Linked DNA regions of Homo sapiens. The protein of the gene in region 1 purifies or fractionates together with the protein of each later gene. This does not show direct contact. Each region holds a gene or a part of one and is shown on either strand. Other genes may lie near its edges. The genes, in order: KCTD19 and ECT2L.

Region 1 (3,821 bases):
GAGCTGAGGAAGGTTAGTGATCTTTGCTGCCTTTGTATATATGAAAAGGTATCTATAGCATTCATCCTCCAGTAATGTAATGTCTCTGCAGGTAAGATCCCAAGAGAGTTCTGCATGCGCTCCATGGAATGGACAGTACCTCATCTTTTTTTTTTTTTGTAGATCTATTGAGATATAATTCACATACCATACAATTCACACATTTTAATGTGTACAATTCAGTGAGTTTTAGTATGTTCAGAGTTGTGCAACTATCATCACAATCAATTTTAGAACATTTTCACCATCCCCAAAAGAAATCCCATACTCATTAGTAGTCACACCCCATCTCCCCATAGCCTCTCCAGCCCTAGGCAACCACTAATCTATTTTCTATCTCTAGAAATTTGCCTTGTCCACACATTGCATGTGGATGGAATCATATGTGATTTTTTGTTTGGCTTCTTTCCCTTGGCATAATGTTTCGAATTTCATCCATGTTGTTATCATGTATCAGTACTTCATTCCTTTTTATTTTTTATTTTTTTAGAGACGTGCCTCACTCTGACGCCCAGGCTGGAGTGCAATGGCACGATCACAGCTCACTGCAGCCTCAAACTCCTGGGCTCAAGTGAATCTCCTGCCTCAGCCTTCCAAAGTGCTGGGATTACAAGCACAAGCCACCATGTTCATCCCATTCCTTCGTATTGACAAACAATATTCCATTGTGTGGATATACTACATTTTGTTTACTCATCTGTCAGTTGATGGACATTAGGTTTATTCCAACCTTTTGGCTATTATGTTCTATGAACATTAGTCTAGAAATTTTGGTGTGGACATATGTCTTTATTTGTCTTAAGTGTACACCTAGGAGTGGAATTGCTGGCTCATAGTAGAATAACTCCATGCTTTACATTTTCAGGACCCACCAAACTGTTTTCCAAAGTGCCTGCACCATTTTACACCTCCACCAGCAGTGCATGGGGGTTCTGGTTTCTTTGTCGACACTTGTTATTACCTATTGTTTTCATTGTAGCCATACTAATGGGTGTGAAGTAGTATTCTGTTGTGGGTTTTGATTTGCATTTCTCTGATGACTAAGGATGTTGAGCATCTTTTTTCGTTCTGTTGGTCATTTGTATATATTCTTTGGAGAGATGTCTATTTAGATGCTTTGCCAATTTTTAAATTTGGTTGTCTTTTTGTTATTGAGTTTAAGAGTTCTTTATATATTCTAAAAACAAGTTCTTTATCAGACAAATGATTTGCAAATATTTTGTTCCATTCTGTGAGTTATCTTTTCACCTTCTTGATGGTGCCCTCTAAAGCACAAATGTTTTTAAATTTTGATTAAGTTCCATTTATCTATTTTTTTGGTCACTTTTGCTTTTAGTGTCACATCTAAGAAAGTTTTGCCTACTCCAAAGTCATGAAGATTTTCTATTTTCTTCTAAAGATTTTATGGTTTTAGGCTGGGTGCAGTGGCTCACGCCTGTAATCCCAGCACTTTGGGAGGCCAAAGCAGGTGGATCACGAGGTCAGGAGATCGAGACCATGCTGGCTAACACAGTAAAACCCCATCTCTACTAAAAATACAAAAAATTAGCCGGGCGTGGTGGCGGGTGCCTGTAGTCCCAGCTACTCAGGAGGCTGAGGCAGGAGAATGGAGTGAACCCGGGAGGTGGAGTTTGCAGTGAGCCGAGATTGTTACCACTACACTCCAGGCTGGGTGATACAGCGAGACTCCGTCTCAAAAAAAAAAAAAAAAAGATTTTATAGTTTTAGGTCTGTTTCACTTGCAGCTAATTTTTGTGTATGGGTTGAGGTAGGGGTCCAACTTTATTATTATTGTTATTATTATCTTTTATGCATATGGATGGGCAGTTGTCCCAGCACCATTTTTAATAAGGACTATTCTTTGTCCATTGAATCATCTTGGATTGCTTATCAAAATTCAATTGATCATAAGTGTAGGGGTTTTATTCTGTACTCTCAATTCTATTCCACTTATCTTTATATTTATCCTTATGCTGGTAGCACACTGTCTTGATCTAGCTTTGAAATAAGTTTTAAAAGTGTGGGATGTGAGGGTGATCTGGCTGTGACATCTGTCACTCCATTGATTGCCAGGGTTGATTTGGCTGATCTGGCTGTCTAGGCGGGTGTCCCCTTCTTCCCTCAACGCTCCACGTGCGTCCCTCCTGAAGCTGCGTGCTCAGTCAAAGAGGACGACCATCCCCAATAAAGGAGGACCAGTCTTCAGTCAAGGGTATACAAGTATCTGCTCTTCCTAGCTAGAACCTCCAAACAAGTTCTTAAGATCCGTTGTAGGAGAACGTAGGGTAGTCAAGCTTCCAAGACTTCAGACACATCCTAATGAGGCGCTGCATGTGGCAGTCTGCCTTTAAAAAAAAAAAGTGGGAAATGTGACTTCTTAAACGTTCTCCTTTTTTCAAGACTGTTTTAGCTATTCTGGATCCCTTGTATTTTCATATGAATTTTAGCATCAGTTTTTCAATTTTTGCAAAAAGTCAGGATTTTCACAGAGATTGTGTTGAATTTGTAAATCAATTGGGAGACTATTGCCATCTTAACGATATTAAATCTTCCAATCCATGAGCATGAGATATTTTTTCATTTATTTAGGTCTTTTAAATTTTCAACAATGTTTTGAAGTTTCCAGTGCACATGTATTTCATTCTTTTGTTAAATTTATTCCTAAGTATGTTATTTTTGATGCTATTGTAAATGGAATTGAATTGTTTTCTTAATTTCACTTTCAGATTGTTCATTGCTGAAGTATAAAAATACAACATTTTTAAATATTGCTCTGCATCTTTCAACCTTGTTGGGCTCATTTTTTTGTTTGTTTTTCTTTTTTGAGACAGGATCTTGCTCTGTTAGGCCAGAGTACAGTGGCACAATCATAGCTCACTGCAACCTCAAACTCCTGGTCTCAAGCCACCTTCCCACCTCAGGCTCCCAAAGTGCTTGGATTACAGGTGTGAACCACCATGCCTGGCCTGGACTTATTTCTAATAGTTTTCTGGTGAATTCCTTAGGATTTTTTATATACAAGATCATGTCATCAGCAAACAGAGATAGTTTATTTCTACCTTTTCAATCTGGATGCCTTTTTATTTCTTTTTCTTGCGTAGATCTCTTTTTCATTCCCCCTTTAGGAGGAGTCTGGCATGGCTCATGAATCAGCAGAGGACTTGTTTCATTTCAACGTAGGGGGCTGGCATTTCTCAGTTCCCAGAAGCAAACTCTCTCAGTTTCCAGACTCCCTGCTGTGGAAAGAGGCTTCAGCCTTGACCTCTTCAGAAAGCCAGAGGCTATTTATCGACAGAGATGGTTCCACATTTAGGCACGTGCACTATTACCTCTACACCTCCAAACTCTCCTTCTCCAGTTGTGCAGAACTGAACTTGCTGTATGAGCAAGCATTGGGTTTGCAGCTGATGCCTTTGCTGCAGGTAAGATGCTCTTGTTTTCTGGGAGTGGTGGATCAGTAACATGGCTTTACATCACTAAATATTGTTTCCTGTTATATATTGGTTGCTGAGATGACCCTCTTAATGGGCAAATGTAATAAGTGTGTTAAAGTAATAAATAATTTCCTCATTAGTATAGGGGTGAGTAAAAAGGAAAAAAAAGTAATAAACAATACACTGAAATTACCTGCTTTTGTTTTTTCGAGACAGGGTGTCTGCTGCAATCACAGCTCACTGCAACCTCCACCTCCCAAGCCCAAAGGATCTTCCCACCTCCCACCTCAGTCCCTCTGAGTAGCTGGGAACACAGGTGCATGCCACCATGCCCGGCCAATCCTTTCC
Region 2 (3,821 bases), on another chromosome or scaffold:
AGGTTGGAAAGATTCACCACGTCTCATAACTTTCATATTCTTTTATACACATTTTCCATTTCTGTGACCTTCAGTATTTCAGTCTGGATTTTCTTTGGACCTATCTTTCAGTTTACTAATTGTTTCTTTAGCTAGATTCTAATCTGATCTTAAACCCATCCATTGAGTTCTAAATTTCAGTTACTGTATATTTTCAGTTCTAGAATATTGATTTAATTCTTTTGCCAAAATTTTCTACCTAGTCATTTATTTTAGATATATTAATTATAGAGTATTTATTTCCGCAAAGTTCATGTCTGATGATTACAATATTTGGATCACCTGAGGATCTCTCTATAGTTATTAAAAACCAAAAAGAAAAAAGAATTCTTGTCTATTGTGTGTTCTAGTTAATTTTCATTGAGTACCAGATACTGAGTATACAAAATTAATGTGATCCTTTGAGTCTCTGGGTGATGTTTTCTTCCTCCAGAGAGAATTTACTTTTGCTTCTGGCACGTCTAGTGCTAGGAACAAATCCTACAAATCCAGTCAAGGAATGAGATGTTTCAAAGCTGGCTTCAGTCTTTGTGAGAGTTTGTCTAATTAAGTATTATCCTTCCTGAAAAGAATCTTAACTGAAAGCTGGTGTGATTACCAAGCCTCTCCCGTCTTAGTGGGCCCTAAATTTCCATTTGTGTCCTTTCTTCCCTGTGAGAATGCCTAAGATTCTTTTTTAGCATCTAAGTCTTTTAGTCATAACTTTCTGTTCTGCTTCTCAGCCTAACAAGCTTTGCTTTGGAACTGACAAATGCCTTGAAGTAAAAAGTGATGCCAAATATCAGGCTTACCTCTCTGGGTTTCCCTTCTTTCTGGGGTCTTGGTTGAACAAGTCCTTATTGCATTGATAGCTCTATAATATAGCCTTCAAATAATTGTTTGTATAATATTTGGTCTAGGTATTTCATCAGTTCAAACCACATGAAATTTTCTCTTGTCGTATGTCAAAATGGCTGAATATTGGCAATATCGTACGCTTCAGTCAAAATTATTCTCAATGAGAGGGTTAATCTGAAAGAAACTATTCCACTATTGCTAGAAGCTGAATTCTCAGAATCTAGGGTTAACGTAACCAAATGCTATTGGAACATTGGATAAGTGTCACAAAGATGTCTAATACATACATTCACATATAACATATATATTCATCAAATAATATTTTTCCTGTGGAACAAGATACGCTTCTTATTTCCAAGTCAAGTTCAGATAGTAAGTCAGTAATAGCATTTAAAAACGTTATATCTGGCCAGGTGCAGTGGCTTACACCTGTAATCCCAGCACTTTGGGAGGCTGAAGCGGGAGGATCACCTGAAGTCAGGAGTTCCAGACCGGCCTGGCCAACAGGGCAAAACCCCGCCTCTAGTAAAAATACACAAAAACTAGGTGGGCATGGTGGCATGCGCCTGTAATCCCAGCTACTCAGGAGGCTGAGGCAAGAGAATTGCTTGAACCCAGAAGGCAGAGGTTGTAGTGAGCTGAGATCGCGCCACTGCACTCCAGCCTGGGCGACAGAGCAGGACTCCATCTCAAAAAAAAAACATAGAAATAAAAATAAAAGTCCGGGTGCGGTGGTTCACACCTGTAATCCCAGCACTTTGGGAGGCCAAGGTGGGCGGATCACGAGGTCAGGAGATGGAGACCATCCTGGCTAACACGGTGAAACCTCGTCTCTACTAAAAAAACAAAAAAATTAGCCAGGCGTGGTGGCGGGTGCCTGTAGTCCCAGCTACTCTGGAGGCTGAGGCAGGAGAATGGCATGAACCCGGGAGGCGGAGCTTGCAATGAGCCGAGCTCGTGCCACTGCACTCCAGCCTGGGCGACAGAGTGAGACTCTGTCTCAAAATAAGTAAAATAAAATATAAAAAAAATTAAAACTTTCAATTTTATATAAACATTGTAGAAACAAATGGATTTGCATACAAATTCTCAGAGATTTTTGTACCAGAAATCTCAGTGTAATGAAAAAGTATCTGTGTACCTGAAAATATTATTGCTAGAAAACTGTCTGAAAACAATTTGTGACTCATCTTCCTCTTGTTTCTGAAGGATTGCTTATGGATGCCCAAATGCGTTAAGTTCGGATGGTTTCTGCCCTATACTCCAACAGATAATGAGTATGGTGCTTGGAAGCGCCATTACATTGCTTGTGTGTCCCACTTAGACTGGCTGACACCTAGGGAGGCTGCTGCTACTTATGGGACGCTGAATGAACCCAAAACAGAAGATGAGGAACTACTGGAGAGACAAAGAGAAAAGTGCCTGAGGAAAAGAATTTGGGAGAAAATTGCACTACGTAAGAGTAAGTAGCATTTTAAACCTTTATATCTTAGGTAAATATTGTAGACACAAATGGATTCACATACAAATTCCCACAGAGGACAGCCCTGTCTTTCGGAATACTCTGAGTGGCAGTCTTAAGTATTTTCCAGATGAGCTTTTTTCCGTACTGTATATTTCAAGTTAATTGATGAGAAAAACAAAGATTTCAGACAAAATACATAAGGTTAAATATCAGTGCTTCCATTGCTATTCTGGCTCCTCTCAGGCTTATAAGACCAAAAACAAAGAGGATAAAGATGTTTGAACATGGGGAAAAAAGCAAACAAATAGGTTCAAAACAGAGGAATTGGGAGTGATGAAAAGAGGAGGAGAAATGCAAGTGAAAATGGAAGCAGGGAAAATGGCATTTAAAAAGGGAGAAAGAGGACAGCTCTTTCCGCTCTTTTTAAAGCCTCTTTCAGTTAAGCCCCCTATTTATTTATTTATTTATTTTATTTTTGAGACAGGGTCTCACTGTCACCCAGGCTGTGCAGTAGTATGATCTCTGGCTCACTGCAGCCTCGATTTCTGAGGCTCAAGTGATCCTCCCACCTCAGCCTCCTGAGTAGCTGGGGCCACAGGTGCACACCACCATGCCTTGCTAATTTTTTGTATTTTTGTAGAGATGGGGTTTCTCCATGTTGGCCAGGCTGGTCCCGAATTCCTGGGCTCAAGTGACCCGCCCACCCTGGCCTCCCAAGGTGCTGGGATTACAGGCAGAGCCACGGCGCCCAGCCTCAGCTAGGCCTTATGCTTTATGCAGTGTGTAAAAGAAAACAGCAAAACTGATTAGAGTTCTCCCATGTTTTCTTCCCACTAACCCTCTGGTGAGATCGTGACAAATAAGAAATTGCTTGAAGGCAAGAAGAAGGGCACAAATGAATGTGACACCTATCAATTGATTAACTGGTCCCCACTAGAAAAGGGTTGCTTGTTTGCTTGTTCTCTGAGCTTTGTTTCTTGACCTGAAATGACCGGTAGCTCACAGCCACAGTGCCAAGAGGATGAGAAATCCAAACCGAGTGCATGAAAATGGCTGTAATTATTGTCATTTGGAACCTTGCCCTGGTACAGCTTTATTTTTGATGCCTTTATCTGTGTGGACTTGGCTGGGAGAAGTATGAAGTAATCAGCCCCGCCTGCTGTTCTTTGTTTTTCAGAGGAGTTATTCAAAGTTCGACCCCCTTGGGTGAGTGGAACTTGCTGCTCTAGCGTGCTAAAGCCCAGATGCCAACCACGCCTCTCCCAGACTGTAAGGGAGCGAGTGGGATTACATGAAGCTTTGGAGAAACAGCTTGTTTTGACATCGTTAGAAACCTTGCCCAAGCGGTAAGCAAAATTCCATCTACTGAAGGCTCAACACCATCCCAATACCAATAATTCACTCTAGAATAAATTTAGCTATCACGCAGAAATCTTGTGTAATTCTGTGGCTCATATCCTATGAAATATCAGTAAAGATA

Evidence for each region.
Region 2: the proteins of KCTD19 (region 1) and ECT2L purify together in Homo sapiens (affinity purification with mass spectrometry; one large-scale study listed by BioGRID and IntAct). This does not show direct contact.

The regions. Positions count from the first base shown.
Region 1 is NC_000016.10:67,320,229-67,324,049, reverse strand, and holds part of KCTD19 (BTB/POZ domain-containing protein KCTD19), read left to right. Parts: intron 1-2,062; exon of another isoform or gene 2,063-2,388; intron 2,389-3,164; coding exon 3,165-3,461; intron 3,462-3,821. UniProt on the Homo sapiens protein: Transcription regulator which is essential for male fertility and for the completion of meiotic prophase in spermatocytes. Regulates progression of the pachytene stage of meiotic prophase and promotes the transcriptional activation activity ZNF541.
Region 2 is NC_000006.12:138,840,894-138,844,714, forward strand, and holds part of ECT2L (epithelial cell-transforming sequence 2 oncogene-like), read left to right. Parts: intron 1-2,085; coding exon 2,086-2,338; intron 2,339-3,518; coding exon 3,519-3,687; intron 3,688-3,821.